Linked DNA regions of Homo sapiens. The protein of the gene in region 1 interacts with the protein of each later gene in a biochemical or structural test. Each region holds a gene or a part of one and is shown on either strand. Other genes may lie near its edges.

Region 1 (7,760 bases):
TTTCAGTCTTGTGTCCTTTTGTGTGTGTATATACACTGATTGTGTGTGTGTGTGTGTGTGTGTGTGTGTGTGTTTGAGACAGAGTCTTGCTCTGTCGTCCAGGCCGGAGTACAATAACGTGACCTCGGCTTACTGCAACCTCTGCCTCCCAGGTTCAAGTGATTCTCCCACCTCAGCCTCCTGAGTAGCAGGGATTACCCACTACTATCGTGCCCAGCTAATTTTTGTATTTTTGTAGAGACGGGGTTTCACCATGTTGGCCAGGCTGGTCTCGAACTCCTGACCTCAGGTGATCCGCCCGCCTCAGCCTCCCAAAGTATTGGGATTACAGGCGTGAGCCACTGCACCCGGCCATGATTCTGTCTTATTTATTTATTTATTTATTTAAGACGGAGTCTCACTCTGTTGCCCAGGCTGGAGTGCAGTGGCATGATCTTGGCTTACTTCAACCTCCACCTCCTGGGTTTAAGAGATTCTTCTGCCTCAGCCTCCTGAGTAGTTGGGATTACAGGCATGTGCCACCATGCCTGGCTAATTTTTGTATTTTTAGTAGAGGCGGGGTTTCACCATGTTGGCCAGGCTGGTCTCTAACTCCTGACCTCAGGTGATCTGCCTGCCTTGGCCTCCACCTTCCTGGTTCAAGCCATTCTCCTGCCTCAGCCTCCCGAGTAGCTGGGATTATAAGCGCCTGCCACCATGCCCGGGTAATTTTTTTGTATTTTTGTTAGAGATTTCGCCATGGGGTTTTGCCATGTTGGCCAGGCTGGTCTCAAACTCCTGACCTCAGGTGATCCACCCACCTTGGCCTCCCAAAGTGCTGGGATTACAGGCGTGAGCCACTGTGCCTGGCCAAGACAACTCTTTCCGTGGGGCTTGTATTAGTCTGTTTTCACACTGCTGATAAAGACATACTCAAGACTGGGCAATTAGCAAAAGAAAGAGGTTTCATTGGACTTACAGTTCCATATGGCTGGGGAAACCTCACAATCGTGGTGGAAGACGAGGAGCAAATCACATCTTACATGGAAGGCAGCAAGCAAAAAGAGCTTTTGCAGGAAAACTCCCCCTTATATAACCATCAGATCTAGTGAAACTTACTCATTATTATGAGAACAGCACGGGAAAGACCTGCCCCCATAATTCAGTTACCTCCCACCAGATCCCTCCCACAACACGTGGGAATTCAAGATGAAATTTGGGTAGGGACACAGCCAAACCATATCAGGGCTCTTGTTTTTTTTCTCTTGTTCCCTCCCCACCTTTTATTTAATGAGATGACAAAAACAGGGAAATAAGCAAAAAGCTTGCTGTACTGATTTTTGTCTTTTCACTTTGTGAGGATAGGGCTGTATACCTTAAAAAGCCTAACAGTAAATACTTAGATCTGTAAAGGGTGAACAATTGATACTGCATTTGAAAGTTCCTACATAGAGTTATTTTAGTATTGAGGGTGAGAATTTACACAGTTAGTGTCGCAGACTGATTTTGATGTGGCCTAAATCCCCAGGTAGCATTTTCTTTCTCAGTTTGTCCCTTCAGACTTTTCCAAAAAGAGGAAAAAGCAATTCTTACCAGCAGAGGGCACTAGCTTCCTTCTGGTAGAAGTTATAAGTTGAATCTACCTGTCTGAAGTGTTCATAGGGATTGCTCAGTAATTAATTTTTTTGTTTAGATGGGATGGAGGTGGATACCACACCAACAGTTGCTGGACAGTTTGAGGATGCAGATGTTGATCACTGAAAATGATTTATGCAAGTTTAAGGTGAGTAGTTCATTTTCTCCCTTGTCGCTGATCATGAAAATCATATGAAATGATTACTTTCTACTTTTTAAAATTCTTTCTTGAGACAGGGTCTTACTCTGTCACCCAGGCTAGAGTGCAGTGGCATGATCCTAGCTCACTACAGCCTTGAACTCAAGCAATCCACCTGCCTCACCCTCCCAAATAGCTGGGACTATAGGCACATGCTTACCACACCCAGCTTATTTTAAAATTTTACGTAGAGACAAGGTCTCACATGTTGCCCAGGCTGGTCTCTAACTCCTGGCCTCAAATGATTCTCCCTCCTCGGCATCCGAAAGTACTGGGATTACAGCTGTGAGCCACTGTATCTGGCCTATTTCTTTTTCCTTCTTTAAAAAAATTTTTCTTCTTTTAAACCTCAGATTGTTCCTGACAATTTATTTGCTACTCCATTATTCTGAGAAATATATTGTCCTTTGCCAGCCTAAGTATTTCAACTATATGTTAGATAATAACTGAAGGTCATGTTCATATCATACAGAGCTAGAACCAGTAATTGTAGTAGTCCTTTATAAGCTGTTGTTAAATTGTTGTCCCTGTCTCCCCACTACAACTTCCTCCTACCTTATAGCATTGTTTTCTTGAATACTGGCTATCCTCCAGTCTTTGAGATGCTCTCGCTAGCCTCCTTTTATTTTACTAAAGCATATAGTAATAGCATGGTAAGATTTATATGTTTTGACTTGACTCTGCTACCACTGTCAGTCATCCAGTTAAGTTATAAGATCCTTTGTTATTCCCTGCAATGATAAATATTTCAGAATTCCTTCTCTTTTCTTCTGATACAGATTTTAGTTCTGAACCTAGTTCTGTAATCATTGGCTTTTCTCCAGTTACAAGTTTTAATTCCTTTACCCCTGTTCTATTTCATTTCAGAAACCAGCCTTTTAAAGTTCCAGTTAGCTTCCAAGTTACTGCTATTGTGAAAACTGTATAACATTGCTTCTTATACTGACCATGAATTGTGATACTGGACCTGTGCTTTCTTCTCACATCCTGCCAGTGGAACTATCAGAAAATAACCTCTTAGAGTTCTATGATTTATATTTTCCCTTAAATACTTAATTTTAATTTCCACATTTACTTTTGTCAGTGGTAGCCATACAGTTTAAAATTAGCAATGTCTTCTCTGTTAAAATCATGTGTTCACATCACTGGAGCTCTGTTAACTTTGATTTTTAGCTCTCACAGTTCCAATTGTCAGTAACTTCACTGTTCTACTTCATGGGAAATCCTTTGATATCAACTTCAGTATTCTTTCCTTATTTCTCATCACATTATAGCATATTAATTTTTTCAGTTCAGTGATACTTGTTTTAGTAACTGTTTTATTGCAATTAGAAAACAGATTTTTGGGTCTTTGGGCTTTCACATATTTCTTTTGAAGAATAGACTATACAGAGAACATCAGCCACTCTATTATTAATCAGAATCATGAGAAACTCATTTGGTATGTCACTAACAGTTAAACAAATGGGATGTTACTGCAGTCCTTGGCAAGAATTCTTAGGATTCTTTTTAATGGTGAAATAGCCACAAACTTTTTAATGAGCTTTGTTTTCTGTTAATTTTATCCTAGAGCTCAGAGGCAGAGAATTATTTTATTCATAACGGTTTTTTTTCTTTTCTTTTTTTTTTTTCTTTTTGAGATGGAATCTCGCTCTGTCGCCCAAGCTGGAGTGCAGTGGTGTGATCTTGGCTCACTGCAACCTCTGTCTCCTGGGTTCAAGCGATTCTCCTGCTTCAGTCTCCCAAGTAGCTGGAACTACAGACGCGCGCCACCACGCCTGGCTAATTTTTGTATTTTTAGTAGAGAGAGGGTTTCACCATGTTGGCCAGGATGGTCTTGATCTTTTGACCTCGTGATCCGCCTGCCTCGGCCTCTCAAAGTGCTGGGATTACAGGCATGAGCCACTGCACCCTGTTTATAATGTATAAACATTATGTATAATGTTTATACATATTCTTCATCTGGATAATTGATCTGAATTCCGAACAATGTCTGTACATTTTTTTTTTTTTGACACGGGAGTCTCGCTCTGTTGCCTAGGCTGGTGTGCAGTGGCGCAACTTGGTTCATTGCAACCTCTGCCTCCCGGGTTCAAGCAATTCTCCTGCCTCAGCCTCCTGAATAGCTGGGATTACAGGTGCCCACCACCACACCCGGCTAATTTTTTTTTTTTTTTTTTTTTTTTTGAGATGGAGTTTCGCTCTTGTTGCCCAGGCTGGAGTGCAATGGTGCAATCGGCTCACCGAATCCTCCGCCCCCCCGGGTTCAAGTGATTCTCCTGCCTCATCCTCCCGAGTAGCTGGGATTACAGGCATGTGCCACCACGCCTGGCTAATTTTGTAATTTTAGTAGAGACAGTGTTTCTCCATGTTTGGTAAGGCTGGTCTTGAACTTCTGACCTCAGGTTATCCGCCTGCCTTGGCCTCCCAAAGTGCTGGGATTACAGGTGTGAGCCACCACACCTGGCTGTGTAAATTTTTAATCATTTAAAATTGTACATGCTTTAAAAGAATGAATAAGGAATAAATAATTAAGAGTAGTTTATGCAACTGTTAATAATTTCAGGATAATGGAACTAGGACTTCTCAGTGCATGAGGTGGGGTGGAGACGGCACGTTAATCGTGGAATCACAACTCTGCCACATACTTGTGTACACCTTTGGACAAGGCATATAACTTATTTAATCCTCACTTCCCCCATCTGTAAAATGGGGAGGATAATACCTACCTTGCAGGGTTGTTGCAGAGGCTAAGATAAAATGTACCTAAGTCCTCTGGCACTCGTGACTAGGCATTCAATAAGTAGTAGCTATTATTATTATCACTACTGTAAACACTGTAAACCTTTTGTTTTTCAGATTCTGCTCCTAAGTGTAGGAGAGAACTTGGTGCCTCTTCCACTCTGGAGTGAAGTTAATGAAAGTCTTTTTCCTTTTCCAAAACCCAACCTGAACCAGTTCTTTCTTGAGACAGACTATACTGAGACAACAAGTTGTCACCAGCAGAAGATAGATAATATGACCTTTATTAACTTGATGAATTAACTTAACCAAGAGGGTATTTGTAGTTTACTATTTACCCTAAAACTTTCTGTGTCTGGGTACCCTCTGAGTAGGCCTATAATTCCTACCTTGACTGTGTGCATCATTTGTAAGCTAGCAGATCTATGTGGTGAAAATGCACAGGAGCTTGGTAGACTGCGGGGGAAAGAGAGAGCTCCTTTCGCCATGTTTTACCAGTCTGCTGTTATAACCTCTTAGGTTGTATCCTTTAATTTCCAGCCTTTTAGGTTAGTTTCTGTAACAGAACAAGTGAGTCTGGGATGAAGTCCTCAAAGTACTTCAAATGGTAATTGTTTTGTTTTTGTAATAGCTTAACAAATAAACCTAGGTTTTCTATATTACTTTGCTCTCATTCTTGACTAAAACCATTAATGAGAAATGTTTTTTAAAAAATAATGCTGGCAAATATGAGAATTTTGTTGGCTTTATTTTTGTTTACTTGTTGAGAAGATGAACATGAAATTAATAAGAAAATATAGTTATAGCTTCTGGCAAGTATTTAGTAAGGCAAAGATTTAACACATTTCAGGGGATTTCTGCCACTTCCTTTTAGATCAGCAGTAATTTCTTATATTTATCAACTCTCAATTTTTAGTTTTCATAGATACCTGGGTATTATAAGGCTGATTTGTAATTACTGATTTATACTTGGACTTTTGAAATCATTATGTGTCCTTAAAAATAAGGTTATACAAGCTAACCTTCTTAACAGGATCACATGGCTAATTAGTGACTAAACTGATGTTTGGTACCACTCAGCCCAGTGTTCATTTCAGCACTGTCACTTGGTTTCCCTTATCTTGCAAGGTAGACTGAAAAAAAACGAATTTTCCTTTTTCTAACCAGACTCTCAGAATTTCTGAGTCTGTTAACAATAGGCAAGTAAAACAGCCACTTGAAATGGAAACTAAAATTTACTGAGACCTCTGTACTAGCCACTGTCCTGAGTTCTTTATTATGTATTATAATATTCTTAATTATCTTATGAGATACGCTTTTATCCCACTTTATAGTTGAGGAAACTGAGTTATAGAGAGAGGTAAAATAACTTGCTTAAGGTCATGTAGATAGTGAATTGTGATTTTTGAGCCTGTGCTTTAAAACATCATACAGCCTTACCACCTACCAGCAGCAGAAAGCATGCACACTCTCCCCACTGCTGCAGGGTTTCAGTGTTAACATTTCAATGGCCAGTACAAGAGCTTCCCCAGTTTCTCTGCTACCCATCTGAGCAACACCCATAATTCTATCCTAGAAGTTTGTCCATTCTTCAGTAATCAGTCAGGACATTCTCACAGGCTAATATTAGAAATTCCATTTGAGTTCCTTTTAAAAGGAACAAATTTATAATTGTGACTTTCCATGAACATAAATTGCTCTGATAGCAAAATGTCGAGAAGATTCAGAGTGTACTTGGTTTCTTGTTGGTGTTGCTGTGGTCAATGCAATATGCAAAAAGGCAGGAGACCAAAGCATGTGGGCACCTCTCTGGGCTTATTTCCTCATTAGACTAAGTGACTTTCAAAGATTGAGCTGTAACATTCACTAGATAGTTAGAACCGTAGCATTGAGAAAATAGAAGCTGAGAAAAAAGAGCAGGTCAGGCTTTTAAAAGATAAAATTTATAATGATCAGCCAGACAATATTTATTGATTTCATTTGAGCCTAATTTTAGGGTTGCTGGAATTGTTTTCTTTGTGTGTTCCTGATGTAGAGACACTTTAAAGGTACATAGACATTTCCCCTCCAAAATGTAAGTCATCTAAATGTTCCTAAAAGCTAGGGTTAATGGTTCTCTGTTCTAGGTTCTTCATTTAAAAAATGTATTCATTAAGATATGGTCCCAGCCGGACGTGGTGGCTCACACCTGTAATCCCAGCACTTTGGGAGGCTCAGGTGGGCAGATCACTTGAGGTCAGGAGTTTGAGACCAGCCTGGCCAATACGGTGAAAACCCATCTCTACTGAAAATACAAAAATTAGCCAGCCATGGTGGTGGGCACCTGTAATCCCAGCTACTCAGGAGGCTGAGGCACAAGAATCACTTGAACCCAGGAGGCAGAGGTTGCAGTGAGCTGAGGCCATAAGCTTGTTTAAATCTTTATAGGGGCTGGGCACGGTGGCTCATGCCTATAATCTCAGCACTTTGGGAGGCTGAGGTGGGTCGATCACCTGAGGTCAGGAGTTCCAGACTAGCCTGGCCAACATGGTCAAACCCTGTCTCTACAAAAATACAAAAAATTAGCTGGGCGTGGTGGTGGGGCACCTCTAATCCCAGCTACTTGGGAGGCTGAGGCAGGAGACTCCCTTGAACCTAGGAGGCAGATGTTGCAGTGAGCTGAGGTCACACCGTTGCATTCCAGCCTGGGCAACAAGAGCAAAACTCCATCTCAAAAATCAAAAAAGGTTATGTGGTTATGTATTTTTGAGGTTCTGTTAGGAGCTTCCTCAATATTGGTAAAGGTGAGAGATTATGTGCAGATGATCATAATATACAGGTTGAGTATTCCTAATCTGAAATCTGAAATTCCCCAAAATCTGAAACTTTTTTGAGTGCTAACATGATGCTCAAAGGAACTGCTCATTGGGGCATTTTGGATTTCAGACTTTTGGATTAGGGATGCTTAACCAGTATAATGCGAATTATTCCAAAATTTTAAAAACATTCCAAAATCTGAAATACATTTGATCCCAATAATTTTGCTTAAGGGATATTCAATCTGTATAGTCCTTTACTTTTAGAAGAAGGCAGGTATGATTACTTACTGCTCAGAAATAATAGATACTTAGAATTTATCTGCAGGATTTCAGATGGGTTCACTATTACATACCTGATTATCATGCACATCCTGTTTTAAAAGTATAGAATGGATGAATCCATATCT
Region 2 (6,348 bases), on another chromosome or scaffold:
TGGATACTAATATCACATCATTGTACCCATTTCAAACTCCCCCTCTGTAAAATGGAAAATTGGACTAGATGATCTCTTAGGACTTCAAACTGTAACCCTGTGGTTTTATTCAAAAAAAACAGGTAGCTTCTTGCTGGAGATTCCTGGATGGATTCCAGTCTTCCCAAGAGGTAACAAAGGAGAGGTAACCAGTTGCCCGTGCAGTAGCTCAAGAATACAGAAGAGAAACTGGCTTCACTCACTATTCCATCTTTTTCCAAGGTGGCAAACTCTATGCCTCCTCCCCAGAGAAAAGCCTAACTGTAGGTTCTAATGGACAAGAGCTCACTGTAGCTGGTCAGAAAGGCCTATATCCAGGACTACAATAGTCATTGCTCAGCTTCCTAAGTAGGGAATACAACTAGGCCCCTTTGGGTCTTGGATAGGCTAAGAGGACAGATCTGAACATGCCTGGGTCTAAGTGAGGTGTGGGAAAATAGTGGCAGGGGGCAGCATGGTCGTGCAGTAAAGGGCTATAACTTTATTTGTATTTCCTCTTACACAAAACCATCAAAACAAGAACAGAAAAAGGCTGAAAATCCGTTCAAACCCCATGTTCTCAGGGATATTCCAGGGAGTTCTTGAGGCTGAGTGCGTAGCTTCAAATCCAGCACTAATTCCTCACCCCCTGGCCTGAGGTCTTCATAGATTGGTGGCTTGAGCCCTGCAATTAATTATAATCCCTTGCCCACCTTGATGTAAGGCAGGAAAGCAGATTGAAATGCTCCTCTCTGATGGGCAAGGGGAATCACAGCCCATAGATGTACTGCACCTTCTGTACTACAGGAGCAGAACCTGAAGCTGCTTCCAAGGCTCTGGACACTTGGCACGCAGGGCTAGAGGCCAATGGTATATGAGCGGCCTGTGGGGTTATGAATAGCAGAACAGACTGGTGCTGTCACAGCCCACTCATACCACACCTTCTTGGAATTGCTGCATCGCCAGAAACGCACACAGATGGTTTGGCCTTCACGTACCGTTATGGGCTGCTGTAAGAAGAAAGACAGGAAGGTTCAGGGTGAAGCTATGAATTATACATGGCAATGTATTAAGGTAGGTGTGGAGATAAAATGATAAACATGACAAGACTGTCCCAACCCTCATGAAAGTTATTTGAAGCCTATCAGAACACAAATAATCAAAGGTGTGGTGAGAGCTGTGAACATGTACAGAGTCAGAAAAACACCTATGAAAGGGAACACTAACCTAGTCTAGGAGATCAGAGAAAGTTTATCTCACAATAAAAATGTTTAAAGAAGACCTAGAAGATAGGTTAACTGTGTGAAGAGACAAGCAAAGAACTCTACAGGCAAGAGAAAGGCATGAAAGCCTGAGGTAGGAAAGAAGATAGACAATTAGAACAAAAAGAAGGTCCATAAGGCTGAAGCAGTGTAAGCAAGGGGACAGTAGCTGCAAAGGCAAGCAAACACTCGATCACATCAAGTCTTACAAGCAATGTCCCAGATTTTGACTTTTATCCTAAAGACAATGGGAAGGCATTGAAGAGTTTTAAGCAAAAAAGAGAGATAAGATCAGGCCAGGCGCGGTGGCTCACGCCTGTAATCCCAGCACTTTGGGAGGCTGAGGTGGGCGGATCATGAGGTCAGGAGATCGAGACCATCCTGGCTAACACGGTAAAACCCCGTCTCTACTAAAAATACAAGAATTAGCCGGGTGTGGTGGCTGGCACCTGTAATCTCAGCCTCAGGGAGGCTGAGGCAGGAGAATGGCATGAACCCGGGAGGCGGAGCTTGCAGTGAGCCGAAATTGTGCCACTGCACTCCAGCCTGGGCGACAGAGTGAGACTCCGTCTCTTTAAAAAAAAAAAAAAAAAAAAGACAGCAAGAGAGATAAGATCAAATTTGAGTTTTTAAAAGATGACTCTTGCTCAAAGTAGAGAACAGACAGAAGAGTAGCCAGAGTAGATGCGGGAAAGCCAGGCAGAAGGCCACTCCAAATACTCCCAACACCTACCACTGGGATCCAAGAGCATATGAAATCAGGAGAACATGAGTCATAGTCAACTATCTTCCTGGGAGAAGGAAAGAAGCACAACACCAAAGGCAAAGGTTACTGCTTAACTAGAGAGTCTTAAAAGCAGTTCCTACCTTAATAGGGAAGAGGATGGGAAACCATGAGAACATCCCAGGAGAGTGAGTCTCTGGACGGATACCTGTGTGGACAAAATAATGAAAAAACAGAGGTCTCCATGGCTGTGACTTTTGCCTATGCTGAAGAGGGTCTCTTCTCTAATCACACAAAGATCTCCATTCATTGAGCACTGGGCCCCCCATAAATCTAAATGACACATGTACATATAAGCTGCCCAGGAAGCACACCCTCATACTCTGCCATCTACTGCCATAGACACTCACTCAGAGTGATGTCCTGATAAAGCACAGTCTCAAAGTAGCCGGCAAAGCCATGTAGTACTGTGTTCACCTCCACAGGAAATTCCAAGGTGCAATAGCGGTTGTTGTCAATCATAGGATCTGTCAGGAAATAATTATGTGGGTGACAAGGGGCCAGAAGCTCTAGACAACTTGATAAAGCATGAGCAAGACCCAGGAAAGGAAGAGTAGATAAGGCAGACTAGGGACAGTAAGGGAAGAAAGCAGGAGGAAGGAAGAAGCCCGTACCCCTCTAGTCAGAGGACAGCCATAAAAGAACCTACCTCTGTTGGGATGGCTGAAGGTGAAACAGGGCTGGGGTGCAGAGAGCTGGTGGAAGTTGTGCAGCCGTACCACATAAGGCATCTCAAACTGGGCCTGTCAGAGACAGAAAGAGAGAGAGAGTGTTGGGGAAGACACACAAGAGAGAACTACTTCCCCAAGGATTAAAAAAAGTTTTACTTTAGTGCTTCCCCAATCCCTAACTTCTCCTTCACCTCTTCATCCCCAGCAGAAGAAAATAGCTGATGCAAATACAGAAAAAGAAGAGGACTAAAGAGTACCACTTCTTTCCAGAGAGAGTGGTTCTTTACCTCAGGGTCACGGTCCTTCTCCCTACAGGCTCGGACCTCATTGTACAGCTTGGAGGAAGAGATGGGAGCCAGAAAGGAAGTGTACTCCCCGGGGATGCTCACACCATCATCTGCACAGCAGGAGAGTCAAATTAGTTCCAGAGGGAGGGAAATGGTATGTCTGTACTAACTGAAGGATCAGAAGGATCAAACCTCCCATGTCAAAACCAACCAACGTTGGCATGGGCATGGAAGAAAGAGACAAATGCATGTTGTCACATTACTAAGCCAGCCTGCTTCCAACTACTGTCATGGAGGATTCCACTACTAGGTTAATTTACAGAGTCACACAGATTAAAACTGAAAGAACCCAAGATAGTCTAATCTGGTGGTTCTTAACTTTTGTGGGGTCACAAAGTCCCACAAAAGTTCCTGATGAAAGCTAAGCTCAGGGTACATATGTCATATTTATTTATTTATTTATTTATTTATTTATTTATTTGAGATGGAGTCTCGCTCTGTTGCCCAGGCTGGAGTGCAGTGGCACAATCTCAGCTCACTGCAACCTTCTCCTCCCAGGTTCAAGTGATTCTCGCGCCTCAGCCTCCCGAGTAGCTGGGATTACAGGCGTGCACCGCCACGCCTGGCTAATTTTTGTATTTTTAGTAGTGATGGGGTTTCGCCATGTTGCCCAGGCTGGTCTCAAACTCCTGACCTCCCGCCTTGGCCTCCCAAAGTGCTGCAATTACAGGCATGAGCCACCGCGCCCAGCCCACTCCCTTCATTTTACAAATATGAACACTAAGGTTTGGAGAGATGACTTCATTTGCTAGGGGCACAGAGGCAGTGAAGCAGTGGCTCTCAAACTCATATGATGTGACCCAGGTCCAACCCACTTTCCCCTAAACCCTGTACCCTCCTCCCAGGTTGCTGTCTCACCCATCATCACCCTCCACCTACACCCCAACCTGGGGGCACCTTTTAGGAAGTGCTGGGCTCCATCCAGGCACTCAGGCGACAATTCATTGTCAGCAAATGAGCCCAGAAGCTCACTGACAATGATGTCTGCTTTCTCTGGAGCCACCCATTCCCTCATGTCTGATGAGACTACGGTCACTTGGCTTCCCCATTCTTCAAACTGCCAGTTCTCTAGCCTGAAACAGAGACAATAAGGTAAGGAGAGATGTTAAGGAAATTTGGCAATGAGGACTAACTTCCCAGCAAGCAGGTTGCTACTCACGTCACCACGGCATTTGGGTTTTTCTCCACAGCATACAGCTTTATCCGCCGGTCGGCCTGCTTGGCTGCCCGCAGGGAAGCGTTCACCAGGGGTCCCCGTCCTGCTCCCAGCACCATCAGTACCCTAAGAAAGAAAGGGAAGAGTCAAGCAGACTTGGCATATACAGATATAGGTATGCAAGTCCCTGAGATTGAGGGGAAAGCACTCACTGGACATTGGTATCCTTCTCCTCTTCTGGTACTCGGTCTAGCAGACATTTATAGATGGCCTGGAGGGAGGAGAGAATATCCCATGGTTGTAATCCCATCCTCCCCAGGTCATGCTGGCCCTGTGCTTTCCTCACCCTGGGCACCACACAGTACCTGCTGGTACTGAGAGTATTTGATGGGGTCCTTTTCAAACACTTCATATGTCTGAGATTCCAGATTGTCCATCAGTGGCTGATGAATGAGGAAAAGGACAAAGTTAGCCAGTTTCTGGCAAAGGACAATGCACTAAAATATCAAAAACTTTCCACTGCTTTCTGAGTTTTAGTAAGATTTGGAGGCATATATTCTCAAGAAACATTTTCCATCCCACCTTCCTCCTCTAAGTGCACTCCAGACCCACCTGAAGCGGGGACTGCAGATAGTCTTCATAGCCCTTGGCAAAGAGTTCATAGGCATTAGGTGGAGGACGGTTCTGGCTTAAGTATTCCAGGTATTGGAGGTAGGAGCAGAACTCCTTCTCTGAGTGGTGGTTGGTGCCTGTGATGATGAACTGCACCTCCAACTGTGAGAAAAGTCAGACCATCAGACACAGCCCTCAAACCAAGATTCTGGAATATTATGGTATATGGCCAAAGAGCCCTAGTGTAAAATAAGGCCCAGATCAACAGTTCTCTTTTTTTTTTTTTTTAAAAAAAAAGATGGAGTCTCGCTCTATTGCCCAGGCTGGAGTGCAATGGCGTGATCTTGGCTCACTTGCAACCTCCACCTCCCAGGTTCAAGCAATTCTCCTGCCTCAGCCTCCCAAGTAGCTGGGACTACAGGTGCGTGCCACCATGCTTGGCTAATTTTTGTATTTTTAGTAGAGACGGGGTTTCACCATGTTGGACAGGCTGGTCTCAAACTCCTGACCTCAGATGATCCATCCGCCTCAGCCTCCCAAAGTCCTGGGATTACAGGCGCGAGCCACTGCACCTGGCCCAGACCAACAGTTCTCTAGCGTCTGTCCCAATACCAACAAAGGCAGCATGAGGCTTCAGTAAACTTATAAAAAGCCCCCTTGGCCGGGCGTGGTGGCCCACGCCTGTAATCCCAATACTTTGGAAGGCCGAGGCGGGTGGATCATTTGAGGTCAGGCGTTCAAGACCAGCCTGGCCAACATGATAAAACCTGTCTCTACTGAAAATACAAAAATTAGCCGGGCAGTAGTGGTGCATTCCTATAATCCCAGCTACTCAGGAGGCTAAAGCAGAAGAATCGCTTAAGCCTGGGAGGCAGAGGTTCTGGTGAGCTGAGATGGTATGGCTGCACTCCAGTCTGGGTAACAGAGTGAGACCCTGTCTCAAAAAAAAAAAGAAAAAAGAAAAAGCCCTCTTATGCCATGAAAGTATCAACACCCAAACAGCCTCATGGATCCTTGCTGTAACTTCCTAAATGAAACCTTCTGCAAAGTTCTCATGAGGTTTGGTTTGTTTTGAAAGGTTTCTAGGGCTACTACTGGCATTTACCTTTTTGTTCTCAAGATTCCCAACTTCACTGAAATTGCTCCCCAGAAACCAAAGAAAAAGAGTCAGCCTCACAGGAAAAAACGATCATACACAGGTAAATAAGGCAAGATGTATAGCTGGACTACCTTTAGAACCCTCCTACCACTCACCTTGAGGAGCCGGAAGATGAGCCTCTGGTGCATCTTAGAAAGAACAGGAAATCCCTTCTTATTGGTCAGGAAAATGCTAGTGGGGAGAATGGCTGCTTTGATGGGCTCCCCAAGCCAGCGATCAATGACATGATTAGATGGGAGGTCAGCCCCAATTTCAAGAGCTACATGAGGCAAAAGAAAAACTGTCAACCACTGCCAGGCAAGAAACCCTTCCTTGCTCCTTTGCGCAAAATCTGTTTAC
Region 3 (6,867 bases), on another chromosome or scaffold:
TGAAACCCTGTCTCTACTAAACACACAAAAATTAGCCTGTAATCCCAGCTACTCAAGAGGCTGAGACAGGAGAATTGCTTGAACCCAGGAGGCGAAGGTTGCAGTGAGCCAAGATCATGCCACTGCACACTAGCCTGGGCAGCAAGAGTGAAACTCCATCTCAACAAAAGAAAAAAAAAACCTATGCTTCCCTTCCATATTGTAACCACCTTGACACATTTCCTTCCTTATCACACATTTCCACACATTTGCTTCCTTATCTCTTTCACTGAGTTTTTTCTCCATCATTCTTAAGTCCAGGAAGAAAAGGGCTATGCAAATTCCTACTCACCTCAAGCTCCCCCACCCCTTACTTTCTCTAAGTGTCCACAAAATTAAAGTTTTATCTTCGAGAGGCAGAACTTAAGTGATTGTACCTACCCATTCTATTTCCTCCCACATTATAAAAATGATGCAAGACTTTATTCCTACTCCACATCAACGCCAGAGGATCACACAACTACAAATTCCCATGTTTTACTCAAGGGTAATCATGTCAAGGGTGAAGCATGGAAGCTTTACTGAGAAATATTTTGCCCATATTCCTTCAGACTTTCCCAGTTTCATAATGTGATTTTTACCTAAATTGAACCTGCAAAGCTCAAAAGTACATAATTGATTATATTTACTTTCAATATAATCAGTAATTGATCCATGACTCCTAACTGGCAATATCCACTCCACCAACCCAAGAATAAATATTTACCTTAAGTTCTAACTAGCTACTTTGGGAAGCTGGGGAAGCACAGGAAAAATAATGGGCTACAAGACCAACACCATGATGACTCACATAAGTGAAATATATCTAACTACACATAACACACATGCTTCAAAAAAGACAGGCCAACAATGCCTAAACTCTTTATTTCACCAACCAGTATTTCTGATTTTCTTCTTGATACTGGATTTTAAAACCTTAGAAGTCTATAAATACTGCATTCAGACTTTCCACATCAAGAGAAAGGGGACCAGGGCAGAAGATGTCAGGCCCCATGCTGTTTTGGGGTGGGAAAAGTGGCAAAGAATTCTCAACAGCCTGTGTCAGTTTTCTAACTTAATTGAAACACCTTTAAGCTCTCCTTCATCCCCAAACTTTCCCCTATGGTGTCTATGATAGAAAAACACTTCTCTCTCATATATGTCCCATCACTAGGGAGCCAGGGGGAAGGGAGTGGGCATTACACAGGCAAGCCAAACTTTTTATTCAGCCAGAAAATGGATTTCTGATTCAGTTTAATGGTAAGGAGTTGTGTAAAACCGTACCAAGTCCTGCTTCTTCCTCAGAGTGAGCTGGGCTGCATTTTTGTGACTGGAAGCATTTCTCATAATGGTGAATTAAGCACTATAAAAAAATAAAGTCAATCCCATCTCTATGAGTAGCATAAGAGCTGCTTCCAAGAACCCAGGGATGCCCACATCCCATAACCCACCCAGACACGGCCAATTCCTCATAGACAGCTACATAAAACCCTTTCGTCAACTTGTTTTGGGGGGTGAGAGAGAGGCAGTGCTTAGGGAAGATGTAGGATGGATTTTTTTTATTCCTGCCACTACCAAAAACTATAAATCTACACACACACTCACACGCACATACATGTCCATTTTTAAGAAAGCTTTTCCTCCCTGTGACTACAGGAACCCAGAATCCAGCCTCCCTCAGGCTGAGAGACGATGCCTATTAACGGCACAGATCTAGCATATCAACATACTATAGAAGGCTCCTGTGTTGTCTCACAAGCTGAGAGGGCAGGGCAAAGAAGTGGACACTCATGGGGGACTTGCTTTTTGTCTTAAATCCAATCTACTCAGTAACACTTGCAGGTCCAGGGGCTGGGAGAGGTTCTGTGGGCACAACGTGGTGGACGACCTGATGGTCCCAGCCCACTGTGGTAAGCAGGGAGTGATTGAGCGGGGACCAAGTCGCATCTCTCACAAAGTCTCTGTGGGCTTGGCTTCTAAACCTAGAAGAAAGAAAAAAAGTCGGGGCAGAGTAGAGACAAGAAAAGCAGACCTGGAGAAAAAAAGAGAACCCAACACATCTGGGGCACATTTTTTGGGTGTGTTACACACATTTCACCAACTGTATGGCCTCATCGCCAGGATAGCAGTGTAGCTATCCACAGTGGATGTCATCAGTCATCCAATCCAGTCTTCTATTTTCATAGATGAAGAAATGCTGGATAGAACAAGACAGTGATGAGGGGCAGTAACAGGCAGCAAATCACGGCAAGGAGGGAAGTACAATTCAGGTCTTCCAGGTGCTGCCTTTTACCCTGTAGCAGGCTGCATTTCATACGCAGTTCTTTATGTGAGAGGGTAGACTGCCGCCCCCTTGTGGGAGAGCGCTGGAGGGCTAGACTTAAAAATTTCACCTACCACCCCCCTCTACCAAGGACACGGCTTGTCCTTGGGGTTGTGAATGTGCCCCAGGAATGGACAGGGTCAACAGCCAGCCTGCTTCCATTACCAAGTCCCTTCGGATACAGATGGAGAATCTGTTCTCCAAAAGCACAACACAGTTTTCTGAAGAGGAAAATGACTCGCCCACCCACTGCTCCCCTTCCCTGATTCCCAAAGGATTCCACTTCACACTTACAACTCAGAAAGGCTTGAGTCCAGCACAGCAAGTGAGCAGTCTTCACTGAGAGAGGCCAGGAAGGGAACACTATCAGATGGAGGAGAGGGTTGTGAAAGGTCCAGCCTGGATCCCAAGACAAAACCTTAACTGGGCCGGCCCTGCCGCCACTGTAAAGTGACCCAGGAGAGGCAGCCTGATTCCCACTTTTGGCTAATCTGGCTACTACAAGTCCACACTAAAAGTTTCAAGTAAAGATGAGGGAAATGAAGCAAAGTTAGGGTTGACAACCATCCTGGCAACTAACCACCCCATCTGGTCCCTCTCTATAGCTTCAGCAATAACCCAGAAACACAGGCTTTTCCAATCTCACAGTCCTAGAAGCCCACAACATTAACCATTTTGGGTGTTGGGCAGGAATGAAATCACATTTTAGCCATTTCAGACAGAAACCATCTAATCTGAAAAATCCTTTGACTCCCAAAGGATTCTACTTCACACTTAAGAGATCTTCGATGTTCCGAAACCTCAGCTAGAACACTGTCTGCTTTAAGGAACTACTTCATCAGCTAATGCTTTGAAAACATACACACACACCCTCACGGTTCCCATTTATACCCATCAGGCCCCTGATGACAAAGAACAGTACCTGTGTGGGGAGAACACCAGCCCAGTGACACACTGGGAGTGTACAGCTGAGCTCAGGACACAGCTTGTACTCTTGGTGTCCACAAGGGAGACTGTCCCATTCTCATCACCTGTAGAAGAGAAGGAACATGTCATAGTGATTAAGAGCATGGACTTTTGTGCCAAAGACTTGAATCCTAGTTCCTCGAGCTTGTAAAAGTTAACCATTCTGAGCATCAGTTTTCTCTTTTGCAAAGTAGGAATAATAAGTCACTGGATCATTGTGAAAATTAAGTTAATGAACGAAGCAGTTATTATTTTAACCACAAACTATGTCACCATATACACAGCCTCATGACCACGATAGCGCTACACCTACCCACAGTAGGACAGAATTCGCTATATAGCAATCCACTTGCTTTGTGGATCACTGACTTATAGCCATGCCCAGAATACAGAAGCTGGATCAATCAATCAAAAATCAAATCCACTGGGAAAATAATCATGTTCTCCAAAACTACACTAAAACTACGTTGGCATCACCCCACCTCCCCACCCTCAATTCATAATTCATCTAGTGTCCATGAGGGCTAAGACTGAGCAACAAGGGCCTTGTGTGTTGTGGAGTCAGCTCTTTCTTTTTCCTCCTCCCCTTTCCCAGAGTCAATATGAAGTCTGACACGCTGCCTTACCAAAGACAAAGACTTCACTTTGCTGAGGATGCCAAGCCAGCGAGGTAGGAAGGTAGCCAGGCGCACTGCAGCCTGCAAAGGAGAGACGAGGGTCTGGACCAAAACTCAGAGTACAGAAGAAGCAGTTTCTCAAATGATATCACTCTAAATCCTGGGAGCACCTTTATTTGATTTCCCAAACCCTGCTAAGGCAGCAGTGTCCTCATCCTTGAGCCTCATAACCATTTATCCCAGCAGCCTCCTGCCCTTTCTGGACACGAGTCACAGGCAAGTTTCAGGCACGAATCATGACGATAACAATTCTGGCCCCTTTGTCCTACCATCTAATAAAGTAAATCACCCACCCAGGAACTGGCCCTTCCTCTTGGTATTCATTGCACAGAATGGGGTTAGCAGAGCCTCACTGGAAAAGAAGGAGATTATGTCACTCATGTCACAGTAACTACACTGGGCATCTAGCAACTATGCTTTGACACTGGCCAAAGACAGTCTCTTCTATCAGGGTTCCAAGTACTATTCTCCCACCAATGAATCTCAGACTCACCAATCTGTGATGCTGGCTTGGGACAGCGGGTATCCCAGAGTAAAATTCTATTGTCCTAGAGGAAGGTGGAACAGAAAAAGGATTTCATAATCCAAAGGAGCAGTTGCAGGCCAGAAAGTCTCCCCACTAGAGACTTTGGCCTATGGATGGCTGGAGTGTGTTTAGGGAAGAAGGAGCTATCTCTTACCTCGCTGCATGAAAGAAACACAGAGTCCTTGTGAGGAGAGGCAGCAACACAAGTGACCTGAGCAGCATGAGCTATAAAGGAGAGAGAAAGAGAAATATGATAGAAAACAAGCTGAAGCATTACTAGAGGGCCAGCCCAGGAATAATCAAGGGGCAGGAGGGAGGGAGGGCTGGTCTCATGATGCAATTTAACAAATTTTGTGGGAGATTATGGATTAGACAAAAGCTAAGAGGAGAAGTTTATAGACTTATAAAACCTAAAAAGCCTTGTAAAAAAAAAACGTATTAGTGAAGATAATGAATGAGAAATTAGGGGCTTAGTAAGAATAACAAAGGAATTTCCAGTTTAGGCATCCTAGACGTGAGGGCTAAATAATTCTAGAATAGCAGTCTTCATACTGGAGTACACACACCTCCAAGTAGTATACAAAAACTTTTGAGGGAGTTCTGGGCGCTAATAGTATTAAGAGAGCCAATTTCTCTAATGTTCTCTTTCTTAAAATTGAACTGCCTCTGTTTTCAATCACTCTTCTCCCACTTCATAGAAAGAACACATACCTGTCATTCATCCCAGATCTTTCCACGCTACAATGCTCAGGGGTATAAAAATATAAGGGTTCTAAACTAAGGGACAAAAGGGGCTTTTCCATAAGAACCAAAGAGCAAAAAGAAAGAGCATCTAGGTAAAATTCAATGAAGGGGGCTGATCTTGTTTCAGTCACACCACAAACACAAGTATGGCTCTGTGACTTAACTCTGTTTCTGTCTAATAATGAGAACTAAAAAATATGATAGATCATTGTGATAAGGACATATTCAACAACTTTATCTGAATTTAAAAACAAAGTCAGACTTTTTCTGACAGAAAATTTAGTCTATCTTGGTCCACTGGCTTTACAATGCAGACTGGCTTTTGCCAGTTAGGCTGTTTGGTAGACATTCATGCAAACTAAGTAGCGTTAACCTGCGAATCTAAAATTTTGACAAATATATGCTTGAAATAAGCACACAATAAATTATATGCCAGAAATTACCTTCTCTGCAACTACTTAAATAAGCATTTTTAGGTATCAGTTTAAAAATGTATGAGGGGGCACAGATTTTCAAAACTGTTTTAGGAGGTCTACATGTAAAAAACTTTAAAGTCACTGCTACATGTTAATTAGAAGCTGTGGAAACCTTTTCTACAGTCATTTTACCAGACTTTCCCAGGTAGTCTGAATGTGGCCCTTCCCTGAGGCAGAAGGATGGAATTAAACCAGTTTCCATAGTTCTTTCCTAGCCCTAGAATTCATAGAAAGCCAACAGGATAAGAAGTAAGAAAAGGAATTTATTGCTCACTTGAAAAAAGCAAAGCTCTGGGACAAGCACCATGGTGGTGTACAAAAGATGAATACATGGTTCCTCTACCCTCAAAGGTTTTGGGGCAGGGTGCAGTGGCTCATGCCTGTATCTCTCAGCACTTTGGGAGGCCAAGGCAGGAGACCACTTGAGCCCAGGAATTTGAGACCAGCCTGGGCAACATAGCAAGACTCTGTCTCTACAAAAAATAGAAAAATAATAAAGGATTTGGAATTCAGCAGGGGGAATAAGACACAAACACAAAGAACTAACAAAAAGGCTGCATGGCAGAAATGCTGAAAAAGAGTTAGCATTAACCAGGAAAGCACATCATATGTCTAAGAAATAAAAAGCAAATATAATAGACATAGAACATTGACTTTTTTTTTTTCCCTGAGACAGTTTCACTCTGTTGCCCAGGCTGGAGTGCAGTGGCGTGATCTCGACTCACTGCAACCTCCGCCTCCAGGGTTCAAGCACTTCTCGGGCCTCAGCCTCCCAAGTAGCTGGGATTACAGATGTGCACCACTACGCCTGGCTAATTTTTGTACTTTTTGGTAGAGTCAAGGTTTCGGCATGTTGGCCAGACTAGTCTCTGACTCCTAGACTTCATATGATCCACCCGCCTCAGCCTCCCAAAGTGCTGGGATTACAGGCGTTAAGCCACTGCGCACAGCTGGGCATTCAACATTATTGTAAAACTATTTCCAAGTGACCCTGAGGGTCCAGGATACTGGACCTTGGATATGAGTCAGTGATTTCTCTGGCCTATAACTTAGTCATGTACTTTGAAGTTAGAAATGGCAGGGAAAGGCACTTAGCCATTGAGAGAACCACAGTGATCCCCCAGCATCTAAACCTTG

Evidence for each region.
Region 2: the proteins of CLNS1A (region 1) and PRMT5 form a complex in vitro, tested with the Homo sapiens proteins (5 studies listed by BioGRID and IntAct, with this or other methods).
Region 3: the proteins of CLNS1A (region 1) and WDR77 form a complex in vitro, tested with the Homo sapiens proteins (one study listed by BioGRID).

Annotation. Positions count from the first base shown.
Region 1 is NC_000011.10:77,613,608-77,621,367, reverse strand, and holds the end of CLNS1A (methylosome subunit pICln), read left to right. Parts: intron 1-1,672; coding exon 1,673-1,740; 3' UTR 1,741-1,762; intron 1,763-2,680; exon of another isoform or gene 2,681-2,828; intron 2,829-4,672; 3' UTR 4,673-6,838; downstream 6,839-7,760. UniProt on the Homo sapiens protein: Involved in both the assembly of spliceosomal snRNPs and the methylation of Sm proteins.
Region 2 is NC_000014.9:22,920,029-22,926,376, forward strand, and holds the end of PRMT5 (protein arginine N-methyltransferase 5), read right to left. Parts: intron 6,269-6,348; coding exon 6,105-6,268; intron 5,013-6,104; coding exon 4,851-5,012; intron 4,682-4,850; coding exon 4,604-4,681; intron 4,510-4,603; coding exon 4,451-4,509; intron 4,414-4,450; exon of another isoform or gene 4,365-4,413; coding exon 4,242-4,364; intron 4,156-4,241; coding exon 3,980-4,155; intron 3,380-3,979; exon of another isoform or gene 3,133-3,379; coding exon 3,023-3,132; exon of another isoform or gene 2,941-3,022; intron 2,808-2,940; coding exon 2,714-2,807; intron 2,532-2,713; coding exon 2,415-2,531; intron 2,213-2,414; coding exon 2,148-2,212; intron 1,093-2,147; exon of another isoform or gene 1,029-1,092; coding exon 876-1,028; 3' UTR 501-875; downstream 1-500. UniProt on the Homo sapiens protein: Arginine methyltransferase that can both catalyze the formation of omega-N monomethylarginine (MMA) and symmetrical dimethylarginine (sDMA), with a preference for the formation of MMA.
Region 3 is NC_000001.11:111,439,390-111,446,256, forward strand, and holds the end of WDR77 (methylosome protein WDR77), read right to left. Parts: intron 4,736-6,867; coding exon 4,665-4,735; intron 4,533-4,664; coding exon 4,478-4,532; intron 4,006-4,477; coding exon 3,934-4,005; intron 3,373-3,933; coding exon 3,264-3,372; intron 2,741-3,263; coding exon of another isoform or gene 2,705-2,740; coding exon 2,636-2,704; intron 2,001-2,635; coding exon 1,841-2,000; 3' UTR 501-1,840; downstream 1-500. UniProt on the Homo sapiens protein: Non-catalytic component of the methylosome complex, composed of PRMT5, WDR77 and CLNS1A, which modifies specific arginines to dimethylarginines in several spliceosomal Sm proteins and histones.